Regions from separate parts of the Homo sapiens genome. Here all the other regions are linked to region 3. Evidence: fine-mapped QTL for protein levels in blood plasma. A gene starts in region 3. Each other region holds a variant in brackets. All regions are shown on one strand. Distances are between the middles of the regions.

Region 1 (12,407 bases), 48 kb before region 3:
GGGACCCTTTTTCAAGGGACTTGTGGGGGCTCCTGGCCAGGGCCACCACAGCGGCCAGCAGCAGCGACCCTCCACACCGCCCTGAGTGGGCCCCACAAGGACAGGCACCTCGGCCAGTCCCAGCAGGCACTCTGGGCTTTCTCCTGCGCCAGTAGGAAGTGGTTTGGCTCGGCCCCGTGGGCCCTGGGGCGCTCAGCACCCCCTCCTCAGCCCCCGTCCTCCCTCCTCATGGCTCGGCCCCGTGGGCCCTGGGGCGCTCAGCACCCCCTCCTCAGCCCGCGTCCTCTTTCCTCATAGCTCAGCCCCGTGGGCCCTCGGGCACTGGGCAGTGTCGTGAGCATATCCGAGCGCCCTCTGTGGCACCGTCCCTGGGTCAATATTGATCTGGCTCTCAGCCACTTCCTTTTGCCCCTTCCCTGTCGGCACTCCCACCCACAGGGCCCTGCTGTGCGGAGGGGAGCAGGTGCTGTCGATGTGGTTCCTGCCTTGTGGGTTCAGGGCATTGGTGAAAGTGACAGAAAAGCTGACCCACGTGGCTTTAAGCAAAGACTGAAATTCCAGGAGTGGCTCCGCCTTCAGGGAAAGGTTGATCCAGGCTCAAAGGATGTCACCAGGACCTCATACCTCATTCTTCCCTGCCATCTCTCAGCTCCTTTTTTTTTTTTTGAGATGGAGTCTTGCTCTGTTGCCCAAGGTGGAGTGCAGTGGTGCAATCTCGGCTCACTGCAACCTCTGACCCCAAGTTCAAGCGATTCTCCTGCCTCAGCCTTCTGAGTAGCTGGGATTACAGGCGCCCGACACCATGCCCGCCTAATTTTTGTATTTTCAGTACAGCCAGGGTTTCATCGTGTTAGCCAGGATGGTCTCGATCTCCTGACCTCGTGATCTGCCTGCCTCGGCCTCCCAAAGTGCTGGGATTACAGGCGTGAGCCACCGCGCCCGGCCTCTCAGCTCCCATTTTTTAGAGTTGTCCTCCTTGGAGTGACAGGCTGGCAGCCAGCAGTGCCAAACCTCCGATACCAATTTGGGCCCAGGCACACAAGCGCTGGTGCTATCCCCAGGGCCCTCCCGTGAGGCTTCACCCCACTGCTCCAAGGACCGTGCTGGCCACAGCAGCAGCAGCAGAGGAAACATCGTGTCTCATTAGGTCCCACTTCCCTGCTTCAGTCTGTTCAGTGAGGAAGGAGGCTGAGGAAGGGGTGCTGGCAGGGATTCAGGAGGTGACCCTGGGCAGGGCTCCACACCTCTGTGTGCCCAGCAGCACTCCCTGTCCTCCCCACCCCAATACCATTCCATTGAGGAAAGCACTTCAGTCCCCAGAGCCCCACCGTGTCCAGGGACTGAAGTGGTTTCCTGCGTGGAATGGCACTGGGGTGAGACGGGCATTATCACCCTCACGATTTAGAAGAAACACAGCTCAGAGAACGTCAGTGACCGGCCTGCAGTCCCCTGGCAGTCTGAGATGGGTCTGCACGGTGCCCAGGCCATGCTCTTCACACGCCCATTGACCCGGAAGGCACAGCGTCCTGTGCTGCCTCCACGTGCCAGGGCTGGGAGCAGCCAGGCAGGGGTGAGAGTTGGGGGGTCAGACCCAGGGGAGGCCCCAGCCCAGACTCCAGGCCAAGATCCCACCATGGCAGAGATGCACTTGCTGCCGTCCCAAAGCAAGGCCCCTTCCGAGCGTTCCCTTCCGTTACTGCTGCCTCTCCGTGGAGACTGGCTGATGACTTCCAGGTACCCGGCTGTCCCTAGGGGAGGCCATGTCCTTCTCAGGGGAGCTGCCTCCTTCCAGGGCCGGGCAGTCCTGTGTGGCCCTGCTGCCCACAAGCCAGCTGTGATGGAGCTCCTGGCAGTGCCTCAGAGCAGCCAGGGATGGGCGGGACCCTGGGAGCTGCCCGGCTGACTCCACCCCTGTGTGCCACAGAGGGGCAGCCCAGGCTGCCAAGGATGCTGCCCCCAGGCGTGTTCCAAATCCCTTAATCCTCTCTCTCTGTGGCCGCTCTGGGCTCCCCATCAAGCCCTAGTTCAGCCCCCACATCCTCTAGCCTCCCGGCCCACCATCAGCTTTATGGCACCCTTGGCCACTCGTGGCTCGGGTGGAAAGTTTAGGAGTTTCTGCTTCCCTCTTTGGATGCGCCCCTGAGGGGAAGGTGGTGTCCCCCACTGGGCCCAGGAAGGGGAAACGGTCCCCTCTCCTCGCGGTGGTGGCTGCAGCCAGTTACTCCTCCAGAGCAGAACAAGGGTGGGGGGAGTGTGGGGGCGCTTGCTGACCTCAGACACCGCCCAGTTTGCCCTCAGGAGGGATGCATTTCCCCTGTGCACAGCGCTTTGAGGCTGGGCTCACATTTCTTTCTTACAGTCCTGGAAGCTGGGAAGGCCAAGATCAAGGCGCAGGCAGATCGGGGGTCTGGTGAGGGGCTTCCTGGTTTCCTGACAGCTGACTTCTCACACGGTGGAAAGAGGGCTACGGAGCTCTCTGGCCTCCTCTTGTAAGGACACTAATCCCATTCCCAGGGGCTCCACCCTCATGACCTGCTCACCTCCCAAGGGCCCCACCTCCTAACGCCATCACACTGGGAGTAGGGTTTCAACATGTACATTTCAGGAGGACACAAACCTTCAGTCCATCGGGCATATGGGGGACGGGTGGGAGCACGTGTTAGCTGGTGCATGGGTGGGTGGGTGAGTCAAGGGGGGCTCATAGGCCCCTGTTCACACCACTTGGTCGGAAGGGGGCTTTTACCTGGGTGTGGTCACCCCCAGCACCACTGGGGCCTTATGACTTTTATCACCAAAGCTCTACAAGGTGGCAGTCATGAATGAGAAACTGAGGCTCCGAGGGGAGGTGCTGGGCTCAGGCTCACCAGCTGCAGGGTGCCACATCTCATACCCCATCCTCCGCTCCCAGCCCTGAGGAGCCCTCAGAGCCCAGCCTGTCCCAGGCTCTCTGCCCAGTGGCAGAGGAGACCCAGGCCTCATTTGGTGGTTGCCAAAGGCACAAAGGCAGTCCCCGCTCAGTGATGCTATGGTCCCCTCCCTGAATCCACATGCAGAGATCAGGGCTGGAGATGGCCCCAGTGACCTGGGGACTGGCCAGCACCTTGGACACTGTGGCTGATTATCTGGGCTAAGCACACAGCTTCAAGAGTCTACCTGGAAGCTAGGCACAGTGAGCCCCGTAGTCCCAGCTACTCAGGAGGCCGAGGCGAGAGGATCATGTGAGCACGGGAGGTTGAGGCTGCAGTGAGCTATGATTGCACCACTGCACTCCAGCCTGGGTGACAGAGTGAAACTTCGTCTCAAAAAAAAAAAAAAGTTGATTTGGGCCCACTGGGGTGGAGTGGCCTGGGAGTGGTAATGGGGTGAGGATGGGGTCAGGGGAAATGAGAGGGAGGGAGCCGGTGTTGGTGCTGGAAGCTGCTTTTTGGGTTCCCTCCTCCCAAGCATAATGAGCATCTAGGGCGGGAGCTGTGTAGGGCCCTCCCGGGGGTCCCTCTGATCTCCTAGCCTGCCAGCACCCCTGCAGACCCCGCCAAGCTCCTTCAAGATCCCTCCTTCTCGGTGAAAGACGTCAGCCCTTCTCAGAATGCCCGTCTAGCCTTAAAATAAGAAACAGGCCCAACTCTGGACTCCCAGGCCCTAGGTCCCCTGTGGCCTCCTGTCCCACATCCCACTTCCCTCCCTCGCCTGTCCTTCTGGTCTTCCTCTTTGCTCTTCTTCACTCCTCACAGCAGGGGCTGCGGTTTGTGAGTTCCAACTCCAGGGCCTAGGACCACGTGTGGCTTTGAGCAGCCACCCGGGAGCTCTGCCTGCTGGATGCAAACGCCAGGGCCTGAGCACACCGAGAGGCACTGGGGACGTCAGCATAGAATCAACAGCATCAAAGGACATTCGGGCATGTCCTGGGCCCCAAACCTCCCCCAAGCAGGTGACGAAGGGCTCTTGGCAGAAATGAATAGAGTGAAGGGCTGGGGTGGAGGTGGGGAGGCATAGGCGGGCGGTGGCACCCAGAGAAGGGCTGGAGCCTGAGAGGAGAAGGTGAGAAGGTTCTTGGGAGGCAGAAGGGACCAAGGGGCCCTCGCAGTGCGAGCACGCTGTAGCCTGGTGTGACTCCTCCCTCCCCGCTCGCTGGCTGTCTCCATCCACACAGCCACTCCTGGAGTGAGTGGTGCTCTGGGGTGTGAAAGGGTGGCTGGGACCTGCAGGGACACTTGAGCCCAGCCCTTAAGGTCCAACCCAGGAAGTTCCAGAGGAGCCCGGAAGTGTGAGCGCAGCCCTGCTGGGAAATGGTACGGGATGGGAGCACAGAGGTGTTTCAGTTCCCAACACACAGGGGCATACTTTGGGCTTGGAGAGCCGCTCAGCCCTGGGCACGGGGGGACACCCTGTTGGTGGACACCTGGGTTGGCACATATGTCAAGGTCAGTGACTAAATTCAGTCAATTATAATGGAAAGCTAAAATATCCAAACCCAGCCTGGGCAATACAGTGAGACCTCATTTCTACAAACCAACCAACCAACCAAAACAAAAAAAAAGCGGCCGGGCGCGGTGGCTCACACCTGTAATTCCAGCACTTTTGGGAGGCTGAGGCCGGGAGTTCGAGCCCAGCCTGGCCAACATGGTGAAACCCCGTCTCTACTAAAAATACAAAAATTAGCTGGGCGTGGTGGCAGGTGCCTGTAATCCCAGCTACTCAGGAGGCTGAGGCAGAAGAATTGCTTGAAGACGGAGGTTCCAGTGAGCCGAGATCGCGCCACTGAACTCCAGCCTGGGGGAAAGAGCAAAACTGTCTCAAAAAAAAAAAAAAAAAAAAAAAAAAGCCCAATGTGGGGGCTGTTCTGTATTCCCATTTAGATTTATTACGGAAGCAAAAACAATAAAAGCAACACTCCCGTCCGCAACACACACAAAGACCGGCATCAGATTTATTATTATCTCTTGTTAAATATTTTCGATCTTTTCTCAGAACATGGTCTAGAAGGGCATAGTAGTTTTTTTCCCGGTACATGCGTGGGTGGGTAGTGAGGAGAAGGGAGCAGAGGTGCGCGCCAGGAGCCAGGCTGGTTCTCTGCAGAGAACAACCTCCAGATCCTCCCAGGGAAGCCTGACACGCCAGTCCCACGTTGGACGACGTGCAGAGGAAGGGGGAGGTCCACGGGGACGACGAAGATGACCTTATACGTGCACTCGGCATATCCTGGAGTAACGCGCAGTGGGGGAGGTGGGGAGGGGAGGGTCGGCCGGGCAAGCCCCTGCCCGCTGCGCGGCGCCTGTCCTGCAAGCGTCTGGTGCGTGGGTTTGGGGGGTCAGGGTGGTGGTCAGTCTCCGTGGTCCTAACGTGGGGATGTGGCTCTTTCTCCTGGTGAGATGGTTGGGCACTGTGAGCTGGGATAGGGGTCCTGAGCAGAATGCCTCCAGCCTTCAGGGGATCTCTCGGCTGCTCCTCTGGGAGGGCGGCATTCTGACCAGCCAGGGTGCTGATGTCAGGCACAGGGCAGGAAAAGGCTGAAGGCAGGTCCCCAGAATGTCCACTGAGTGCTGGGTGGCACAGGGCAATGCTGGGTGGTCCTTTGTGCCAGCCCCGAGCCTTCCTGAGTGGATCCCACAGTGTTCATCTCTCATGAGCTGGTTCACGGCTTGGGAGGGGCCGCAGGTGGCAGATCCGGGCTCTAAAGGGAAGAACCAGACCGGCAGCTCCAGACCCAGGCTCCTCGGAGTCTGGGCCAGGTGGGAGAGCAAGGGCCTTCTCCAGAGGCACTGACTGCTCTGCTGGCCTTGACCTGGGGCGGGGGTCAGAGTCATCTAGACTCAGTACAGCTGTCCCTGGGCGCCTTCCAGGCTGAATTCGGAAAGCAAATTCTTCTCAGCAGCTCTAACAGTCTGTGAAGTTCTGTTGAAAAAGACTTGCAGGATGGCTCTCAACACCCAGGCGCAGGTGTGCGGGCTGCCTCTGTGTTGCCAGCGTATAATACTGTCATACTGGTGGCCACCCCAGGGGCTAGTTGGCTGTTTGGTCAGGCCCAGAAGAGGACCCTGCAAATGCCTTCTTTGAGATGGAAACACAGCCCCTCCCTTCAACTGTGCAGGGGTGGGTGAGGCCAGCCAGCCCTCGTGGGGAGAGTAGCTGTGTGCCTGAGGAGGAAAGGGCGTTTGGGAGACCTCTGCTCTCGTATGCCTTAACCTCCAACACTGTGTGACTCCCAGACCCACAGATTCCTCGTGGGAAAACAGGGACCAGGCCACCACCCAGTGTGATGAAAGGAGGTCGCCAAAGAGACATTCCCATGGAAGTGCTGGCCCCGGGACCAGCACCTGCGGATGCTGAACTAAATGACATCTGAATCTCAGGGGGAGGGGCCGGGGCAGCTGGAGCGTGGCCCTGGCCAGTCGTGGTGACGGAATTCCGGGAGCCTTGGGCCTGGAGTCCTGCTCTTCCTAGCTGGGAAGTCTGCAGAGAGGGAAGAGGACACTCCTGTGCCACCAGAGTTCAACCAGATGAGTTCCCAGCCTGGGCCTCCAGCCCTCTGCCCGCCCTGCCGGGCCTGAACCCCCAAGTGCTGGGGGTCTTGTCCGATGCTGCTTAGTAGCTGTTGTCTGTGAAGAAAGTCACGCGGGCAGACGGGGAGCAGTGGTCCTCCTCGCTTGGCTCCGACAGCTCCCCATACTCGCTGTTGTAAAACACCTGGCCTCCTCGGGCCCCC[C/A]GCTCAGGCCGCCGCCGCCTCCCTTGGGAGTCAGGGTGTGCCCTGGTCACAGCCACATTCTGGCCAGGTCCTTTACAGCTGCCAAGACAGGGAAGGTGGTGTTAGTAAGAGAAGAAGGCTGGGTGGCGGGTGGTGCATACTGGTAATCCCAGTACTTGGGAGGCCTAGGCAGGCGGATGGCTTCAGGCCAGGAGTTAGAGTCCAGCCCAGGCAACATGGGGAAACCCCGTCTCTACAAAAAATACAAAAATTAGCCAGGCATGGTGGTGCACGCCTGCGGTCCCAGCTAAGTGAAACAATTGCTTGAGGCCGGGTGCGGTGGCTCATGCCTGTAATCCCAGCACTTTGCTGGGAGACCGAGGCGGGCGGATCACGAGGTCAGGAGATCGAGACCATCCTGGCTAACACGGTGAAACCCCGTCTCTACTAAAAATACAAAACATTAGCCGGGCGTGGTGGCGGGCGCCTGTAGTCCCAGCTACTCGGGAGGCTGAGGCAGGAGAATGGCGTGAACCCGGGAGGCGGAGCTTGCAGTGAGCTGAGATCGCACCACTGCACTCCAGCCTGGGCGACAGAGTGAGACTCCATCTTAAAAAAAAAAAAAATTGCTTGAGCCCAGGAGGTGGAGGTTTCAGTGAGCCAAGATCGTGCCGCTGCACTCCAGCCTGGGTGACAAAGTGAGACCCTGTCTCAAAAACAAACTAACAAAAAACAAGGAGGGACTGGAGCCCTGTCAGGGTCTGATGGGAACCACCAAGGACACAGTGGAGCATGGCATGCGTTCAGACTTCAGAAAACACACACAGACTCGACTCAAACAGCAAAGCGGATCGATCTGATCCAGCACTCACTGGAGCTCTGTCCCTACCTAGCCTGGACCCGAGACTGTGAAGAATGTCCAACTTCATCCCCCAACCCAGTTCTCACTCTGTCTTGCCCATCTCAGTGAACGGCACCACCGTCCCCTCAGCCGCTCAAGCCAAGCACCCTGGGGTTCTCCTTGCTTCCTCCTTCCCCTCACTCTTCAAAGCCAATCCATCCAGAAGTCCTGTCCATTCTAACTCCAGGACACATCCGTGCATCTCCATTCCTGGCCCTCCTGCGGAGCCAGCTGTGTCCTTGCCGGCTCTGTGACATCCTCCCGCGGACTGCTGTGTGCTTCCACCCTGGCCTCCTGGTGGTCCACCCTTCAGAGAGGTCCTTCAAGTTACACTATGTCATTCTCCTCCTGACACGCCCTCCAACGGCTTCCCGTCACTCCACGAAGCAAATCCAGGCCTCTCGCCTTGACCTAGGGGGTGGTTTCTGCCCCTGCCCTCCTCTCTGCCTGCCCTATCATGCACCATCCTCAAGCGCTCACTTTCTTTGCATTTTTTGAAGATGTTGACTTCTTGTTTGGTGCTTTGCATGGTGCTACTGAAAACTCTTGACTGTAAGTTTAAAATATTAGTTCTTTTACTGTTTGCATTTTCTTCCTCTGGGACTCCCAATTTTATATATATTGTCTCTTTTCTATTCCTGTCACTTTCTGATCCTTTTGCCTCTTTTCAGTTTTGTTTTCCTCTTTTCACGTCCATCCTCTGTGTCTGGCACTATCAGTCTGCTCATACATATTGTCCCTGTGGTGCCCTGGTTTTAGAAAAGATTTATCGGGTTTTTTTCCCCCAAAATGGGGGCTTGCTGTGTTGCCCAGCCTGGAGTGCAGTGGCACGATCATGGCTCACTGCATCCTCGACCTTCTGGGCTCAAGCAACTCTCCCACCTCAGCCTGCTGAGCGGCTGCTACCACAGGCATGGGCCACCACACCCAGCTAATTTTTAAAATTACTATTTGTAGAGACAGCGTCTCATTCTGTTGCCCAGGTTGGTCTTGAACTCCGGGCCTCAAGTGATCCTCCTGCCTCAGCCTCCCAGTGTGCTGTGATTACAGGTGAGAGCTACTGCCTGGCCGAATCTATCTTTTATTTCGATTTCTTTCCTGAATTTAGTCTGCTGTCAGTTGTATCATCACATTGTCCGTCCATTTCTATCCTGAAATTTTGAATTTCAGATTCAACAAAACAAGCCACTGCTTGTTTCCTTATATGTTTAATTCATGTTGGAGCATTTTGCTCGTTTTCCTGTTTCTTTTGAACAATTGTCTACCGGGAAGTTTTAACTCTAATACTGTCTTATTCCTATAACTTTGTATGGAGGGTGCTTTTTTGGGGGTTCAGGATTATTCATGTTAGGATTTCCTACACCAGAAATAGCCACTTCTCCTGTGGATGGGACTAGGGATTTTGGTGGCATCCTACATTTCTTCACTTAAAAGTGCCACCTCAAACCCATATCTTTGGCATCTCAAGTTCCTTTGAGCACATTCTTCCTTCTGAAGGCTCATACACGTCCCGTATCATCCTGCCACCAGGGGCCAGCTAGTCTCTTACCCAGAAGAGCTAGGCCCTCCACTGGCTGCACGCAGCCATGCTGAGTGACCACAAGCCCAGTTTCCTGATCTCCTTCCACCCACAGATGCAGGTGAAAAGCCACATCTATAGGTACGGGCTCTGGCATCCTAAGTGGGTACTGAAGGGGCTGGATGATGTAACCCAGGAGTGAGGAGGTGAACCCCCATGGGGCGAGTGCCGACCAGTGGTTAACAGGAGACAGCGAAGGACTAGGCAGATAGATTCCTCCTTCTTCTCCCCACACCCCACCAAGGCACATTCTCTCCTTGCACCTGTTTGCACAGCATTCTGTATGCCAAGCGGATGCACCCGCCAGAGACCTGTGGCACCTTTTCTTGGCTCATTGTCGACAGAGGACAAAGAACAGTGCCCTCTGCTGCCGATACAGGGTGGTGCAGTTTCTCAAATGAACAAATCCATCATGTGTCTTCTTCTGACTTCTGGATACTATCTTGCTTCCTTAGGACCCATGTCTTCTGGAACTTTCTTCTTCCTCTACCACCAAGCATCCAAGGGGCTGCACTCCCTTCTGGCTCGCCGCCCTTTCAGAAGCAAGATGGCTGCCCAGTGCCTCGGGCTTGGCAAGGGAGCTCTCCTCGCAGCCCCATCTCCTCCGTCACCCCTGGGTCTGTGTTGCCACATCCCCAAGGACCTCGTCACACTCTCCTCTCACGGGACGGCCCTATCTGACTCTCCCACCATGGTGCAGGCTCAGCCGTGCGGGTCCTGGCGTTGAGTCCCCAACTCACGTTTCCACGGAGTCTGTCTCCTAGCTGAGCCACAGGCCTGGGCTGAGCGGCCTTCTTTGATCTCAAGGAGCTGTGCTGTTTCTCGAAGGTGTGTAGAGGTTTGAATTTACGTGGCGATCATTCTCTGTGACACCTTTTACTTAATTACCTTGTTTTTTGAATGTCGAAATGCTGTTTGGTGACGAAAAATTAGCCCAAAGCTATTTCCGTAAATGTGACCACCATTGATTTTCCAAAACCAGGTACTAACAGGAGTCACCTGATGAGCTGGGCGTGGTGGCTCATACCTGTAATCCCAGCACCCTGGGAGGCTGAGGGCAGATCACTTGAGGCCAGGAGTTCAAGACCAGCCTGGCCAACGTGGCGAAACCCCGTCTCTACTAAAAAAAAAAAAAAAAAAAAAACAAACAAACAAACTTAGCTGGGCGTGGTGGCACACGCCTATAATCCCAGCTACTCAAGAGGCTGAGGCAGGATAATCACGTGAACCCGGGAGGTGGAGGTTGCGGTGAGCCGAGATCGCACCACTGCACTCTAGCCTGGGTGACGGAGTGAGACTCTGTCTCAAAAAATAAAAATAAAAATAAAAATAAAATGAATCTTTTAAGCAGACACTGAAGTCTTTGTTTAAATCTATACCCTTAAAAGTTTCAACATTCAAAATGGCCAAAACTGTTTTTCCCCTGGCTGTCATGTTGGGCAAATGGAGTTCACTTTCTATCTGGGATATGTGGGTATTTCTCTGTTGCCAAAATACATCCCAGCCTGTGGGCGAAGGATCACCCAGGTGCTGAGGCAAGAGACTGAAGGCACAAACTGTTTCAGTATAATAAAGAAAACAGTGGCCGGGCGCGGTGGCTCAGGCCTGTAATCCCAGCACTTTGGGAGGCCGAGGGCGGGCGGATCACGAGGTCAGGAGATCGAGACCATCCTGGCTAACATGGCGAAACCCGGTCTCTACTAAAAAAAATACAAAACAATTAGCCGGGCGTGGTGGCGGGTGCCTGTAGTCCCAGCTACTCGGAAGGCTGAGGCAGGAGAATGGCGTGAACCCAGGAGGCGGAGGTTGCAGCGAGCAGAGATCGCACCACTGCACTCTAGCCTGGGAGACAGAGCGAGACTGTCTCAAAAAAAAAAAAATACATACATACATATATATATATAAAATAAAGAAAATAGAATAAGAATAGTCATAATACAAATTAGATAGAGAGATGATCATGGACATTATCAGTCATTAGTATAAACATGATTAATTAGCTTTTAATACTACTCTTTGATGTATTACTCATATTACCAAGGAATAACTGGTGGGCACAGGGTCAGGTGCTGAAGGGACATTGTGAGAAGTGACCTAGAAGGCAAGAGGTGAGCCCTCTGTCACGCTGGCATAAGGGCCGCTTGAGGGCTCTTTGGTCAAGCAGTAACGCCAGTGTCTGGGAAGGCACCTGTTACTCAGCAGACCATGAAAGGGCGTCTCCCTTTCCTTGGAGGAGTCAGGGAACACTCTGCTCCACCAGCTTCTTGTGGGAGGCTGGATATTATCCAGGCCTGCCCGCAGTCATCCGGAGGCCTAACCCCTCCCTGTGGTGCTTCAGTGGTCACACTCCTTGTCCACTTTCATGCTCCTCTTGTCCTCCTGGTTCCTCTTTGAAGTTTGTAGTAGATAGCAGTAGAAGAAATAGCGAAAGTCTTAAAGTCTTTGATCTTTCTTATAAGTGCAGAGAAGAAAATGCTGACGTATGCTGCCTTCTCTCTCTCTGCTTCAGCTACCTAAGAGGGAAGGGCCCCGTCCCATGATCATGTGACTTGCTTCACCTTATCAATCACTTGAACGACTCACCCTCCTGACCCTGCCCCCTTGTCTTGCATGCAATAAATATCAGCGTGCTCAGCCATTCGGGGCCACTACCGGTCTCCACGTCTTGATGGTAGGGGTCCCCCAGGCCCAGCTGTTTTCTCTTTATCTCTGTCTTGTGTCTTTCTTTCTTACGATCTCTTATCTCCACACACGGGGAGAACACCCGCTAAGCCCCACAGGGCCGGACCCTACACCAGCCAGTTCAGATTACAGTATCTACCCGGCTTCTGGAGCCACTGGGTGAAGTTCCGGGGTTCTGGGGCTGGGGTGGCCTCCCCAACCTGGAGGAGAGTGTGTGTGCCCTGGGCATGGTGGGTTACGTGTGGTGTCAGAAAGACACAGCATCTGAGCTCTGTCAGATGACAGGGAGGTGTCGGGACCAGCGCCCACGTGGCCAGCATGTGACAGGGAGGGGCTCCCGCGGTGCTGTAGGTCAGGAGGGGTCTCAGGCAGCTCACCTTGAACGCGCGAAAAGGCCATAGGGAGCCACGAAAGGTTCCGGGAAGAGGGCTGGGCACACCCAGACCCCAGCCTCCCTCCTCCAGGGGAGGGCAACATCGATACCTGCAGTGCAGGAGGCTCACGAAGCCCTTACCTGAAGCCGCTTTCTTGTCTATGCCTGCTCTCTATCTGCTCAAACTCCT
Region 2 (2,976 bases), 29 kb before region 3:
CTCGGATGAGACTGGCTTCCAGCCTCAGTCTCCCTTCCCGAGTTGCCGTCCCACCGGCCCACCCCGAGCTGCTGCTCCTCACCAGCTAGGCTGCCCCTTCCGCCCGCTGACCCCACACCTTTCAGCATTTTCACGGCCACGGTGTCACAGCTGCTGCCCTTGTGGATGCCGAAAGCGGAGGCTTCCACCACCTTCCCGAAGGCGCCGTAGCCGAGCACTCTCCCTGTCGGGGCAGGGGGCCAGTTGCAGGTGAGCTGTACGGGGTGAGCGTGGAGACAGGTGGGCGGCGGGGGAGCCCCGTGCAGAGGTCCAGGAGGACAGGCCTGGCAGCAGGAGGAGCGTGGGGAGCCACAGCGGGAAGACAAGGAGAGGTGGACAGGAGGCCGCGCATCCTCCCGGGTAGGTGTGACAGATACACCCTGCTCAGGGTGGCAGCAGGTGACCTCAGGGAGCCTGGGAACTGGGGACCCTGGCTGAGGTTCTAGGTACCCACGCCCACAGGGACAGGTCAGGCCAGGCGGAACTTCCTGGTGCAAGTTTTGAAAATGGAGGGATTCAGGCACTCCGGCCTGCAGCAGGTGGGTCGGGCAGGAGGTGTGGGTTGGGCAGGCTGGTGCTGGCCTCACCCAGGTGCAGCCGCTCTCGGGGGAATTCCCACTGGCTGGCATCGTAGGACAGGTATTCGCATTGCTCCTCCAGAGGCACCTCCCCGGGGTCCATGATGATGGACAGGTAGCCCGTCTTGATGTCTGCGTGGGCCGGCTGCGGGGAGGGGACAGGGAGGAGTGGGGCAGCTCACTGATTTGGCCATACCACTGTGGCTTGGGCAGAACTTTGCCCAGGACAGATGGCACTTCCTGCGGGGTTCTCAGTCAAGGAGGGGACAGAAAAAAAGACAGACAACCTCTGCGGGGTTGGAGCCCAGCGTGAAGGGCAGGGAGGCTTCCCAGGAAACAAGGCTGCCAGGTGAACTAGGGCGGGCACCTTATTCTTTATCTTAGGGGCGGCCAGGGTGGGGAAGGCCTGAGAGAGACTCCATCAGGAGCGGGGAGGGACACTCACCCTCCTCATGTTACAGAAGATGAGGAGGAGGAGGACCCAGAAGAAGACAGCGATGACGCCGGTACCGACAAGGATCACGATCTCCATGCTGCCCTTATCCTCGGAGCCTGCGTGGGCAGAAAGGGGCCGGCGTGTGTGTGTGTGTGTGTAAGAGCGTGCACCTGCAGGCAGCACCCCTTCTGGTGGCCACGACTTGCCCAAGGTGGCCACAAGAAAGCGTTAACTGGGGACGGGAAGGGAGTTGAGGGGTGCAGCCTGAGGCCAGACCTTCCACGGCCACGCTGGCGGAGGAGTTGACGCAGCCCTTGGCGTTGCACACGCTGCACAGATAGCGTCCCGCATCCTCCTCGCGCACGCGCTGGATGCTCAGCTTCTGGTTGGAGTCCGCCAAGTCGACTCCTGCAGGGGGTGGGGTGGAGGTGCGGGTCCACCTGGGTTTGGGATCGTCGGCCTCGCGGGCCTCCGGACCTGCCCTTCGCCAGGGCCACCCTCCCTACCAGACTTTTCCTCCAGCAGCCTCTCGTCTTTGTACCACACGATGCTGGGCGCGTGCGCTCCGGCCACCAAGCACTGCATCTCCAGCGAGTCGCTCACGTTCACCAGGAGGTCGGTCAAGTTCTGCGTGAGCCGAGGGGCTTCCAGGGCTGGGGGCAGGGGTCGAGAGGGAGCTAAGTGGAGCTGCACTTAGCAGGAGGACCCTCTTTGGGCTGGGAGCAGAGGTAGAAAAGGATCCCTGGAAGCTGGACTTAGGGGTTGTGCGCCGGGCAGGAGCGCGGCGCGCCTCCGCAGGGGGCGGCGGATAGTCAGGAGGGGTAGCTCCTGCAGGCCAGGGCTGTGAATAGACCTCCCAGGGGCGAGCCACGCCGGGGCAAAGGCAGAGGCAGCTACTGCTAGAAGAGAGCGCGTCCCCGCCCTCCCCGCGGCCAGCCTCACCCTGCACCGACAGGTACTTCTTGTGGCAGTGCTTGTCATGGCTGCGCCGGTCTTGCACTTCGCACACATAGTGGCCCTCGTGCTCGGGCGCGACGCGGG[G/A]GATACTCAGGCTGAGCGTGGCGTGGCGCGCCCCAGGTGCCACCTCCTCCAGGCTGGCGGCCAGAGGGGTGGCGAACAGATGCACGTTCTTGCAGTCGAGCAGAAGCGGGTTCCCGTGCGCATCGTGCAGCGTGGACAGGTTGAGGCGGTACCAGCGCAGATGCTCGTACTTGTAGCTGTCGGCTTGGCAGCTCAGGAGCACCGGCTGGCCCTCTAGTAGCTCCTCGGATGGCTTGGATTCGATGGTGAAGCCGTCGGGGATGGCTGTGGAGGGAGGAAGAAGCCCTGTGGCACTGCCCTGGGAGTTTGCTCCCCCATCCACCTGCCGCCCCGGGGTCTCCTCCTGCCTCCCTCCCTCCCTCTCTCCTGGAGGGGCCCCAGCTGGACTGCTTGCCCCCCGCCCCACCAAAAGCCCAGGTCATCAGGAGTTCCTTGTCACCCTCAGTGGGACTTGAGTCCTCATTCTCTCTTGAAGCTTGCCATGCCCCACCCCATGCTCAGCCTGAAATAACGTGTTCCCTGGCTTTTCCCAGTGCCGTGCGCCCACTTCCTCTTGTCTCTCTGGTCACTTCTGGTCAGGCTCCTGTGGCCCCCCAGCCCCCGGGTGTTCTTTTGGGCTCCATCTCTCTGCTGGTGCCCTGATCTACATCTCTCTGCTGGTGCCCTGATCTACATTCTGGGACCCAGTGACGTCTGCTCCTGGGCTCCGCTCTCCTGAGGTCACTACCACATTTGAAAATCTGAGTAAACCACAGAGCTTCTCCCCAGAGCAAAATTCACACGAGTCACAAGGTCTCAGGGCTTGGGAAGGGGAGGGTGGGAGTGGGTATAGCTAGGAGGAGCTGCAGTGAGCCAAGGGCATCCTTGAGGGAGGAGCCCCAG
Region 3 (12,407 bases):
TGTGTGGGCAGGTGTAGGCGTGAGCGGAAAGAGGGCACAGGGTACCGGGAGGGTGGAGAGGCTGTGCACGGAGGGGCACGCCGGGCGTGTGGTGGACCTGGGGGAAATGTCTGCAACATGCTGCTTTGTAAAGGTCTCTGGGACAGCAAAGTAAAAATGGCCATGAGGTGGTTAGAAATTGAAGAGTCCACCTGGCCAGCCCTCTAGGGCATTCCCTGGGGAATGTGGACAGTGGCCTGTGTGCCTGCCCCTTCTTTCCCGCTTGGCCCCCATGCTATTTGGAACCAGATGTCAGACACCTATTAACCCCCTGAAATGAGCCATCTATTATCTAGAGAGCCGTTTCACCCTTGTGGCCTGAATTTCCTAATCTCCAAAATAAGCATAATAAGGTCTGCGTGACGAGGTTAAAACCTGTACGTGCCCTGCTGTGAAGCAATCTGAGAAACCATTTCACACGGAGGTGTGGCCCACTGCCGGACACGCCACATCTGTGTGCATGTGCCGGTGCACGCTTGCTGCTTAAAACAAATCAATCTCCATTTGGTAGAATTTAGAGTAGCTTCGAGGACAGTGTGTTGAGTTGGGTGATGATGGGGGCTTCCCCTAAACCCACCTGAAAGTCTGAGGCACACTGTGAGCGGGAACGAAGCCATCACCTGCCCCGGAAGGCCCCTTCCGCTTGGAGCAGCACCGTCTGCCCGGAGTTCCCAGCAGTCTCCCAAAGGGCACGTCCAGGGTGGGCGAAAGGCCATGGTGCTGGGGCTGGTGTGTGCAGTGGGTGGAGGCTGGGTGGACGCGGGGCTAGGGATGGCCTGGGACTCCAGCAGGAAGGGCCGGTACCACGAGCCCAAGAAGCTGGTGCTTATCTTGTGGGTGAGTTGGGGGGGGCCCTGAAGGCTCATTTACAGCAGTCCCTTTGGGGCAGAATGGAGACAAATTTCTGGAAGATGCTGGAAACAGGGAGTGGTGATGAGGTTGAGAAGGGCTGGACCTGCGGGGAGCGTGGGCTGCCTGAGTGCCCCGTGGGGGTGGAGACCAGGAGGAGGGGGCCTGAGCAGATGCTAAGCTCCCAGCACACGGCCGCCGTGGGGCAGCCAGCTATGCCAGGCAGTTTCCCCGGCTTCCGTGGGGTCAAGGCTCTGCTTGCTGGCCGGCAGGACGAGCGGCGTTATCAGACAACCCAGCTGGCGCAGAGGTGGCCCCCCAGTGCTGCTAAATCGGGGCCACCAGCTCCTGCCGCAGGAAGAGGGAAATGCAGGCAGGATGTCCTCTCCTGTGGCCGACAAGTCCTTTCCCATGAACCCCTGCTGACCTCGCCGGCCACGTGGCGGGCCTCCCCTACTCACCACCTGGATCTACCCAGGCCTGGCCGTGGGCTAGGGTGGTGCGGGCCTCAGACAGGGCCGGGGGTGTGCCTGCTGTTACCCCGTCCAGCCCGGCCAGGGCTGGCGCCCTGCTCCTCCTCCGGGAATGAATGCCCGCATCTTCCTGCTCCCAGACCTGTCTCCTCAGTGTGACCGGAAAACCCAGATTCCAGAGGAAGCCAGTGTCTGAAAAGGATCGAAACTCAGGAATCCCTGGCTCCAGCTGGACACACTGACTGAATCTTGCTCAGAGTCTAGGGGGTGTGAGAGGCTCTCCAGACCCCTCTCCCTGCCCACCCCCAACTCCGAGGGGCATCTCAGAGGGACGTGGGGCACAGGCTAGGCCTTGGTGGAGAGAAAACTGCCCTGTGGAGGAAAATACGGCAGCAGGAGGGGAGTAAGCCAGACACAGAGAAGCACCTCCCCTTGCAGCTGATTCGCTTAATTTCCCTGGTTCCCCCATTCCCCTCTGTCCCATCATACTCAAGTGCTCCCAACTTTCCTCCCTCCTTATCTGGCCGGGTGCATCAGCTGAGGTCTCCGAGGAAATCCCATTGCCTACCTCCACCCAAGGTCCTGCTCCTCTCCCAGGGTCTCCCTTTGATAAATTATCCTTGAAGCCAGAGACCTGGGACTTCCTCTGTCCCCACCATCCCCAGCTGCTACCTGCCTCCACCCCAGTTTATCCCCTGGGTTATCCACTTGCAGTTCCTGTCTCCCCTGGACACCAGCCTCCTTGCTGCTGGCACTGCCGCATCTCCAGCCTCGTTTCCCCTACCTCCCATCCACTCCTCCCAGACTCCAGCCTCACCGGACCACCCACTTGGCCACATTCACCATCTGGACTTGCCTGTCTCTGGGGCTTCATGGGGTTCTTTGCTCTGCTTGGAATTCCCTGTCCTGGAGTTCTGCAGACCCCACCAGGAAGCCCTTAGCTGGAAGTGACACTGCCTTCCTGTGCAGCTTACAGCCACCAGCTGGGCCTCACCAGGGCCCCTGAACACTTTCATCCCTGGGCAATACACGTCTGATGGCATGTCTGTGTCCCTGCAAGGCACAGGAAACCCCTGTGCGATGGGGCCAGGTCCAAGTCCTCCCTGGGCCACCCCGAACAGGCACTATGCTGGGGTCTTGCATAGAACTGCAGGCTCCTTCCCTGGGTCGGGGTGCCACTGCTGGGGGTTACAGTGAAGAATTCGCCAGACAGACCACACATCACACCTCGTACCCTGTCTGGGCCCAGCCATGTGGGCCCTATGCTCTGGGAGGGCTCAGGACTCCTTCAGCCACACTGGCTCTGTGCCATAGGCCTGGTGGATGAGGGAACAGCACCTGCATTCGAGTCCTCAGAGCCCTGAGCTGGAGCAGAAGGTCCCCAGGCCCAAGTAAAGTGGGCCTGATCCCCACATCCTGCCTGCAGTGACTTGCATCCCTGGGCCACACATCTGTCCACATCTGGGCCTTTGTGACCCAGGTCACAGCAAGGGCAAACGTCCTGAGACCAGGCCACTCCAGATGCCCAGCAGACCCTGCTCCTGCATGTCCCTGAGCTGGTAGCCACAGTGCAGAGGTGCCAATGGCCTCTCTCTAGACTAAGCCCCAAGAGACATCTGTGACCTACCCTCTCCACTGGGGCAAGACTGTGGAACTGCAGCAGGCATCTGGGTCTTGGAGTCCAGCCCAAGCACACACAACCCACACAACCTCGGGGCTTGCCAGCTTGTGCCATGGCTATGCTTGTGCCATGGCTATGCTTGTGCCATGGCTATGCTTGGGGAAACTGAGGTGCAGGGAGGGGAAAGGAGGGGGCCCAGGTCACACAGAAAGGACTTTACGGCAGAGGCAGGACAAGAGTCTGGTTCTATGATCAATAGCACACTTTTAAGGGGTCAGCTTCAGGATGCTCAGGCTTCTGGCCTGCTCCCACCGGACCAGCTGCCCTGACACCCGACTGCAGCTCCCACCGGACCAGCTGCCCTGACACCCGACTGCAGCTGAGGGCTTGTGCTTCCGCCATGGCATCCCCCATCAAGCTGGGGGCTCCCGGGGTCTTCAGCCTAGCAGGGGGTACAGCAAGGTGCAGGGCTCACGGAGGGATGACCTCTGTCTTCATTGCCATCTCCCCACCAGCCAAACCCAGGTCCAGCCCAGGACACCCCTCTCCATGGGGCGCCCAACTAATGCCCTCTCTCCTCTTCATAACTGGGTCACTAAGAGTCACTACTTACTGCAGGGAATAGCTTCCTCACCCTTCACCCCACGTCCCTCTGTGCTCCACCCGGGAGCACCAGGACACTGGCCTCTCCTGGTTCTCCTTATACCTGCAGAATGTTCCCTGGATCCCTGGAAGCCCCCTTGCCCTCTGGGCCCCTCCTCCAGGGTTCCCCTCCCGGGTCTCTCTCTTCCTCTCCAGCTACTCAGCCCAGCTCAGACACTGCGCCCAGGTGCCTGTCCCATGTCTCCTCCAGGATAAGCGTCTCCCATTCTACAGCCCTGCAGTCCAACCAAGGTCTACCAGCCACTCGACAAATACATCCTGAGCACCTGTGGGAGCCTGGTCCTGGGCTGGGTCCAGGAGGGCCAAGGGCAGCGCCCTGATCTGGCCTGCCCGACTCGGAGGCCCAGATAGATGTTCTCCTCCCTCCTCCCCTGGTTGAGCCAGACCTGCCCCCTCTCCTGTCCTCTGCCCTTCAGCCAGTGGACATACAGGTGGTGAGCAAAGGCAGGCTTTGTCAGGCTTACTTTGGGCCTCCTGGGGACCTTGGGGAAGTGACACATGTCCTTGGTCTAAGCTTCTCCATGTGTAAAATGGGTCTGACACTCCCTGTGAGAATTACAAGCATGTAAAGCCAGTATTTAATTCCTATGGCGTGCAGAAATGTTGAGGTCCCCGTCGCTGACTTCAGGGCTTCAGACACTGGAACCCCTGACCCCGCCCTTACACCCTTTGATTTCCAGGGACACCAGCTCCGTGGGGACTCCCAGCTCATCTTCTCAGCTTCCTCCCTGACATCTCCATCCACTCCCTCTGCCGCCCGCTCATCCCCCACAGTCCCTCTTTCCAACCCCTCCGCCTCCGCTTCAGGTCTGCGTCTCTCCCCGCCAGAGCCACATCCCAACACAAACCGAACCCCGCCTCTCCTGTGCAGGGGACCCTCCCGCGGGGGCCTCTGCTCCTCAGCTGGCCTTCGAGGCCCCTGTCCCCTCAAATCCGGGGACCCCTGGCCTTCCGCCCCTTCTGCGGCGCTGACAGCCCGCGATTCGCCTCCTCAAGATTCGTCTCAAGTGCCAGCGTGCACCTGCACCCGTCCGCCTCGGGCGCGCGGTGGTCCCCGGCCCCTGTCCCCGCCGTCGCCGGCCACGGGGAGGGGGAAGCCCGCCTCGAGCGCCCTCTGGGGGACCGACCGCGAGCGGAGGCGCTGGGCGTCGGGAAGTGCGCACCCAAGTCCGGGGCCCGGCCGGGATGGATCTCCGGCGCGCGTGGGTCGGGACGGCGCGGCGCGGGGACCCCGCGGGGAAGCGAGTAAGGGCGCGAAGGATCCGGGCTCAGCGCGCAGCCCGGCAGGGCCCGGCTCCGAGGACGCGGAGCCACCGACGGAGACGCGGATTCAGGGGCCGGGAGAGCTACCCCTGCGCCGAGGCGCGGCCCGGCCGCCCTGGCCCTGACCCGGCTGCGGTCCCCGCCCGCCCCTTCCTCATCCCGAGGTCCCGCGCCCCAAGCGCCGTGCTCCCCTCAGGCGTCCGCGCACCAGGGCCACCGTGTCCCCCGCCCGTACCCGGCGGAGCGGTCTCAGCGCCCGCCCCAGGTGCGCGGTACCCCCTCCCCGGCCAGCCCCACGCTCGGGCGGGTGGCCCGTTCGCCGCGCTCACCGTCCAGGAGTCCCAGGCAGAGCCACAGTCGCAGGCACAGCGCGGCGCCCCGCTGCATCTCCGGCCGCTGCGCGTGGGTCCGACCCGAGCGGCCGCGGCTCGGGGCTGAAAGTGTCCGCGCGGGCGCCGGCTGGCCTGGGGCGGGGCGGGGCGGGGCGGGGGCCGGAGGCGGGCCCGGGATTCAGGCCGCTCCCCGCGCCCCCCTCCCCCCGTCCCTCCCAGCCCGCCGCGGGGCGTCCGGTGCACCCGAGCAGTGCGCGCTCCGCACCACAGGGTCCGGGCCCCCTCCTGGGCGGCTCCGGGCGCGGGGACGCGGGTAACGCAGACGGTCTCGCGATGCGCTCCGGAGGTGATGGAGCCTGGTGGGCAAAGGGGAGCAAAATGCGGCACGCGCTCTTTTCCGTCCTTTCTTTCCATCGGTAAAATCTAGACTAAACAAGAAAGCAATCCTTGTAAAAATAGTATGTTACATCTTTGAAAATAGTGGCACCAGCCGGCGTAACATAGGGAGACCCAGTCTCAAAAATAAACAAGCAAATAAATAAAATAATACGCCGAGCTTGGTTGTGCGCGCCTGTAATCCCAGCTTCTCGGGGGGGCTGAGGCAGGAGAATCGCTTGAACCCGGGAGAAGGAGGTTGCAGTGAGCCGAGATCGCGCCACTGCACTCCAGTCTGGGAGCCAAAAAAAAAAAAAAAAAAGCAAAAACAAAACCCGTTCAGCAGTGTTTACCTGCACAGTGTCGACGGACAGTGTCGACGGAAGCCGCACCCGTGAGCGGGACACCCGGGATGACCGACCCCCTCCCTGCAGGCCTGGCCTCCTAGCTTTAGAACTCCCCCAGATGTTTTGTTCTCAGCTCAATCAGGACCCGCCCCCACCTTTTTAATAAAGCGACACTTTGCTTTTGCTTTCTGACTTGGCAACCCTCTTACAGACTTCCGTTCTCTTTTCAGTTTGTCTCTAGAATTTTCCTGTTTAATAATGAAGCCCATGACCATGACTGTCTCAACCTCCTTCCCTGCTTTTCGTTTCATTCACATTTTCCATCCCCCCACCCCCGCCCCCCAAAGCCCTTTCATCCTCGCCAAAAAGCAAGAGTAGATTTTCAATAACCACTACCAGCTCTCTCCAATCCAGGTAAGAAGTGGCTATATTATTAAGCTGGAATCACAAATCAGTGCGGATAGTGTAGATAATTTAACAAATAAGGTTGGGGAAACTAGGTAACCAAGCGATACATGAAGTTAGGTATTTATCAATCATATATTGATTTTTTTTAGCTTTGAAAGATTATGAGATGTAACACACTTATGGAAAGTACATAATATATCAGCATATTATAAACCTGAATTTTAAAGCAACAAATACCTGTGTTTCCATTCTCCAGGCCAAGGGATGTAGAATGACATCCCCACATCCCCTCACTTCCCATCACAAACCCCTCACCAACCCCAGAAGATGCCCACTACCCTGGCATTATCATTTCCCTGCTTTTGTTTATCATTTTATCATCAAAATATATGTTTTGCTTTTTTTTTCAGAATGTACTTTTTTTTTTTTTTCTCAAAGTCTCTCTTTTGTTGCCCAGGCTGGAGTGCAGTGGGACGATCTCACTGCACTGCAATGCAACCTCTGCCTCCTGGGGTCAAGCAATTCTCCCGCCTCAGCCTCCTGAGTAGCTGTGATTCCAGGCACCCGGCACCATGCCCGGCTAATTTTTGTATTTTTAGTAGAGATGGGGGTTTAACCATGTTGACCAGGCTGGTCTCAAACTCCTGACTTCCTGATCTGCCAACCTCAGCCTCCCAAAGTGCTGGGATTATAGGCATGAGCCACTGTGCCCCGCCCAGAATATACTTGTTTTTTTTTTGTTGTTGTTGTTGTTTTAGACAGGGTCTCACTTTGTCACCCAGGCTGGAGTGCAGTGACATGATATCTGCTCACCGCAGCCTCAGCACCCCCCGGGCTCAAATGATCCTCCCACCTCAGCCTCCCAAGTAGCTGGGACCACAGATGTGCGCCACCACACCCAGTGACTTTTTTGCATAGCTGGGTTTTCGCCACGTTGCCCAAGCTGGTCTTGAACTCCTGGGCTCAAGTGATCCACCTGCCTCAGCCTCCCAGAATGCTGGGATGACAGGGATGAGCCGCCGCATCCAGCCAGAATGTGCTTTTAAAATTTTAAAGTATACTTAGAGGACATAAGTGCAGATTTCTTAATTCATATATTGTGTACAGGTGAAGTCTGGGCTTTTAGTGTACGCGTCACCTGTACAGTGGACACTCTACCCAAAAGGTGATTTTTCAGTCCTTACCTCTTGCCCTCCCTCCCTGCTTTTGGAGTCTCCAGTGTCTATTACTCCTCTCTGTGTGTTTGTGTCCCTACAGTTTAGCTCACATTTTGCTTGTTGTTTTTTTTTTCCACTTTATCTCAGTGCCTTCATACCATTTATATTCTTTTGCTCAACACCATTAGTGAGATTCATCTATATTGCTGTGATGATCTATACTTTGCTCATTTTCGTAACTGCATAGTTTTCCACAGTAGGATACACCACAATTTGTCCATCTACTATTAATGGAAGTTTGAGTGGTTACCAGTTTCCAACTTTTGCCACAACACTCTTGTATGTGTTTCCTGGTGTACACATGCTGTCTTCAACTTTGGTAGCCAGTGCCAAGTATTTTTTCAAGTGATTTGTACCATTTTGCATGATCATGGCAGCGTAAGCAGTTACCGCTGCCGCACACCTTTACCCACAGTATTGTCAGTTTTGGTTTTTAAAATGTGGCCATTCTAGTTGGTTTGCATTGGCATCTCATTGCGGTTTCATTAGCTATTTTTTTTTTTTTTTTTTTTTTTTGAGACAGAGCCTTGCTCTGTTCCCAGGCTGGAGTGCAATGGCGCGATCCTGGCTCGCTGCAACTTCCACCTCCCAGGTTCAAGCAATTCTCCTGCCTCAGCCCCTGGAGAAGCTGGGATTACAGGCATACGCCACCATGCCCAGCTAATTTTTGTATTTTTAGTGGAGACGGGATTTCACCATGTTAGCCATGCTGGCCTCAAACTCCTGACCTCGGGTAATCCACCCGCCTCAGTCACCCGAAGTGCTGGGATTAACGGAGGTGAGCCACCATGCCTGATCTATTAGCTTTTCCTTAATTACCATTGCGGTTGAGCACATTTTTATAATTGGCCATTTAGATTTCAAGTCTTTTGCTCTTTACGACTCCCCATCTGTCTTTTTCTTATTGATTTGTAGTTCTTTATATATTCTGCATATGAGTCTTTTATCAGTTCCTTTATTATTGCTGTATAATGAAGTACTCCAAGATGTTGTGGGGCAAAGCAGCAGCTATTTCGTTTTGCTCATGCTTTTGAGAGTCAGGAATTTGACAAGGGCTTACTTAGCTGGGTTGGATGCCTGGTGGTCGGTGCTGGCTGTTGTCCAGAAGCTCAGCTGGGGCTGCCAACCAGTGCGCCCATTCGGTGTCTTTCCAGCATGACAATCCCACATTAGTTGAAGTTCTTGTGTAGCAGGTGGCTTCCCCAGAGTGACTATCCAAGAGAACTAGGTGGAAACTAGATAGTCTCGAAGAAGTCACAGCCTGCCTAGGGGACATGTTCCCCACAATTATTAGAGAGAGGCAAGGTCACATGCAGAAGAGCATGTGGGATGGCAGACACTGCCAAGGCCATCTGTGGAAAAGGAACTTGGGTACATTGTGCTACACATCTCCTCTCATTCGGGGTCTGAATTTTCACTTCCGTAATGCTCTCTTTTTGGGAGGCAGGATGAAGACAGAAGATTTTCATTTTAACACAGCACGCTTACAAATTGGTTTCCTTATGGCTGGTGTTACTTGTGTTATCTCATTATTTTATTACTATTATTTTTTGTTTGCGATGGAGCCGTGCTCTGTTGCCCAGGCTGGAGTGCAGTGGCAAGATCTCGGTTCACTGCAACCTCCGCCTCCCGGGTTCAAGCGATTCTCCTGCCTCAGCCTCCCGAGTAGCTGGGACTACATGCGTGTGCCACCATGCCTGGCTAAATTTTGTATTTTTAGTAGAGATGGGGTTTCGTCATGTTGGCCAGGCTGGTCATGAACTCTTGACCTCAGGTGATCCGCCCACCTCGGCCTCCCAAAGTGCTGGGATTACAGGCGTGAGCCACTGCGCCCGGCCTTGTGTTCTTTTAAAGAAACCTTTATCTTGATGTCATGAAGATATTTACTATTTTTTATCACTTATAAATTTTAATGTTTTATTTTCTCTTTCATATTTAGACCTGCGGGCCCTGGAATTGCCTTCTCTGTGTAGCGTAAAGTAGGTGCATGTGTCGAGTTTCTGTCTTTCACCCCGTAAAGATATCTTGCTACTGGCCGGGCGCTGTGGCTCACGCCTGTAATCCCAGCACTCTGGGAGGCCGAGGTGGGCAGATCACGAGGTCAGGAGATCGAGACCATCCTAGCGAACATGGTGAAACCCCGTCTCTACCAAAAAATACAAAAAAGTTAGCTAGGTGTGGTGGCGGAGGCCTGTAGTCCCAGCTACTCGGGAGGCTGAGGCAGGAGGATGGCGTGAACCTGGGAGGCGGAGCTTGCAGTGAGCAGAGATTGCACCACTGCACTCCAGCCTGGGTCACGGAGTGAGAGTCCGTCTCAAAAAAAAAAAAAAAAAAGGTATCTTGCTATCTCATGACCATGATGAGAAGGTCATGCTTTCTACACTTTTCTCTAGCTCCCCCTCAGTCATACATTAACGATCTACACGGAATGGTTCATTTTCTCAGCTTTGTCTATTTTTGTACTGATACTGTCACCAAAACATCACAGGTTCCGTCTAGGTCCGGCCGCCCACCATACAGAAAGCCAATGACAGAGGAGACAAGTATTGTCAAGGAGGAACGTTTTAATCAGGTGCTGTGGCTGACAAATCCATCTCCCTGACCAACTAAAACCAGGGCTTTACATAGCAAGGAAGAAATGAAACAATGTGTAACAAAACAAAAACTAAGGAGGGGCAAGGAAGCAGTCATGATGAATGAACGGTCCAGCATCATTGTCTGGATGTGGAGATCTGGCGATTCTCAGTTCTTTGATACTTTATTTTTTTATTTTTTTAGAGGACTGAAGGTTGTTTCCTGAGGAAGGAACTCAGCTAAAACAAACTTAAGGTTCAAGCTTTAAGACCAGAAGCGTCCATTTCTACATTTATCCAAAAAAACTATCTATGGGACTATTGAGTCGGTTTCAATAGTACCATATCTTCATTATCTTAGTTATATAAAAATCTACATATCTGGAAGCGTAAGTCCTTCCAACCTGTTCCTCAAAAGTGACTTTGGAATTTTTCACAAGTTGAATTTTCATTTAAATTTTAGACTTATTTTTAATCAGCTTCCACACATACATGATATGCTGGGATTTTGATTAGAGTTACAATTAGCCTATGACCAATTTGGGGCAAACCAACTTTCTTTTAATCCATAAACATGGAATATCTCTTCGTTTTTATTTTTAATATATATGATGGTTAATATTGAGTGTCAACTTGATTGGATTGAAGGATGCAAAGTATTGTTCCTGGGCGTGTCTGAGGGTGTTGCCAAAGGAGATGAACATTTGAGTCAGTGGGCTGGGAGAGGCAGACCCACCCTCAGTCTGGGTGAGCACCATCTAATCAACTGCCAGCACGGCTAGAACAAAGCAGGCAGAAGAACGTGGAAGGACTGAAAGAATGTACTTTTTTTTTTGAGACAGAGTTTCGCTCTTGTTGCCCAGGCTGGAGTGCAGTGGCGCGATCTTGGTTCACCGCAACCTCTGCCTCCCGGGTTCAAGTGATTCTCCTGCCTCAGCCTCGTGAGTAGCTGGGATCACAGGCACGCACCACCACACCCGGCTAATTTTGTATTTTTCATAAAGATGGGGTTTCTCCATGTTGGTCAGGCTGGTCTCGAACTCCCGACCTCAGGTGATTCGCCCGCCTTGGCCTCCCAAATTGCTGGGATTACAGGCGTGAGCCACTGCGCCCAGCCTCGTCTGTATTTCTTAAATTAGTCTAGCTAATGGTTTGTCAGTTTCATTTATCTTGTCAAAAGAAAACTTTGTTTCGTTGATCTTTTAAAAAATTGTCTCTATTTTGTTTATTTTTGCTCTGATCTTTATTATGTCTTTCCTTTTTACTAATTTTGGGTCTGGTTTGCTCTTGTTTTTTTGAGGTGTACTTTTAGGTTGTTTATTTGAAATTTTTCTATTTTTTTGATGTAGGAGCTTATTGTTATAAACTTCCCTCTTAGTACTGCTTTTGCGGCAACCTTAGGTTTTGGTGTGTTTCAGTAAAATTTTAAATTACCCTCTTAATTTCTCCTTTGACCATTCAGGAACACGTCTAATTTCCACATATTTGTACAGTTTCCAAAATTCTCTTCTTACTGATTTTCTAGTTTTATTCCAGTGTGGTCAGCAAAGATACTTGATCTGATTTCAATTTGCTAGAATTTGTTGACACTTGTTTTGTGGCCTAAGATATGGTGTATCCTGGAGAATATTCTATGGGCTGATAAGAAGAATGTGTATTCGGTGAAACCCCGTCTCTACTAAAAATACAAAAAAAAAAAAAAAAAAATAGGGCGTGGTGGCAGGCGCCTGTAGTCCCAGCTACTCAGGAGGCTGAGGCAGGAGAATTGCTTGAACCCAGGAGGCAGAGCTTGCACTGAGCTGAGATCGCGCCACTGCACTCCAGTCTGGGCGACAAAGCGAGACTCTGTCTCAAAAAAAAAAAAAAAAAAAAAAAAGAATATGTATTCTGGCCAGAGGCGGTGGCTCATGTCTGTAATCCCAGCACTTTGGGAGGTTGAGGCGGGCGGATCATGAGGTCAGGAGTTCGAGACCAGCCTGGCCAACATGATGAAACCCCGTTTCTACTAAAGATACAAAAAATTAGCTGGGCGTGATGGCATGTGCCTGTAATCCCAGCTACTCAGGAGGCTGAGGCAAGAGAATTGCTTGAACCTGGGAGGCCACTGCACTCCAGCCTGGGCAACAGAGCGAGACTCTGTCTCAAAAAAAAAAAAAAAGTGTATTCTGCAGCTGTTGGATGAAACGTTCTGTAATATCAGTTATGTCCATTTGGTCTAGAGTATAGATTTAACTCCAGTGTTCTTTA

Direction of the effects. Positions count from the first base shown, and alleles are read on the strand shown. Strength reflects both the effect of a copy and how common the allele is.
For the plasma level of the protein whose gene starts at base 5,350 in region 3, allele A in region 1 goes with a higher level than allele C (weak association).
With allele G in place of A in region 2, the plasma level of the protein whose gene starts at base 5,350 in region 3 is higher (moderate association).

What was found. PIP is the posterior inclusion probability: the model's chance that the variant is causal. Protein levels are from antibody-based Olink assays in UK Biobank. Linkage for the fine-mapping came from a reference panel and not from the study's own genotypes, which makes the PIPs less certain.
Region 1: its variant is fine-mapped to the plasma level of the FLT4 protein (UK Biobank, PIP above 0.99). The variant lies in the coding sequence of FLT4. If it changes the protein, the assay may bind it differently, which can mimic a change of level.
Region 2: its variant is fine-mapped to the plasma level of the FLT4 protein (UK Biobank, PIP above 0.99). The variant lies in the coding sequence of FLT4. If it changes the protein, the assay may bind it differently, which can mimic a change of level.

Annotation. Positions count from the first base shown.
Region 1 is chr5:180,596,610-180,609,016 of GRCh38, forward strand. FLT4 (fms related receptor tyrosine kinase 4) reads right to left here. Exons shown (of 30, transcript NM_182925.5): 29 at 12,359-12,407; 30 at 4,897-6,781. The coding sequence ends at 6,583. Among named protein-coding and RNA genes, the nearest start is that of SCGB3A1, 11 kb to the left of the region's middle. RefSeq lists a silencer at 104-275 and an enhancer at 5,969-6,469. The variant C/A (reference allele first, on the strand shown) is at 6,704.
Region 2 is chr5:180,619,547-180,622,522 of GRCh38, forward strand. It overlaps FLT4 (fms related receptor tyrosine kinase 4), which reads right to left. Exons shown (of 30, transcript NM_182925.5): 13 at 1,996-2,358; 14 at 1,560-1,706; 15 at 1,330-1,461; 16 at 1,063-1,169; 17 at 627-762; 18 at 119-223. Among named protein-coding and RNA genes, the nearest start is that of FLT4, 29 kb to the right of the region's middle. RefSeq lists an enhancer at 285-1,484. The variant G/A (reference allele first, on the strand shown) is at 2,095.
Region 3 is chr5:180,644,251-180,656,657 of GRCh38, forward strand. FLT4 (fms related receptor tyrosine kinase 4) reads right to left here and starts at 5,350. Exons shown (of 30, transcript NM_182925.5): 1 at 5,238-5,350. The coding sequence starts at 5,295. RefSeq lists an enhancer at 1,249-1,914.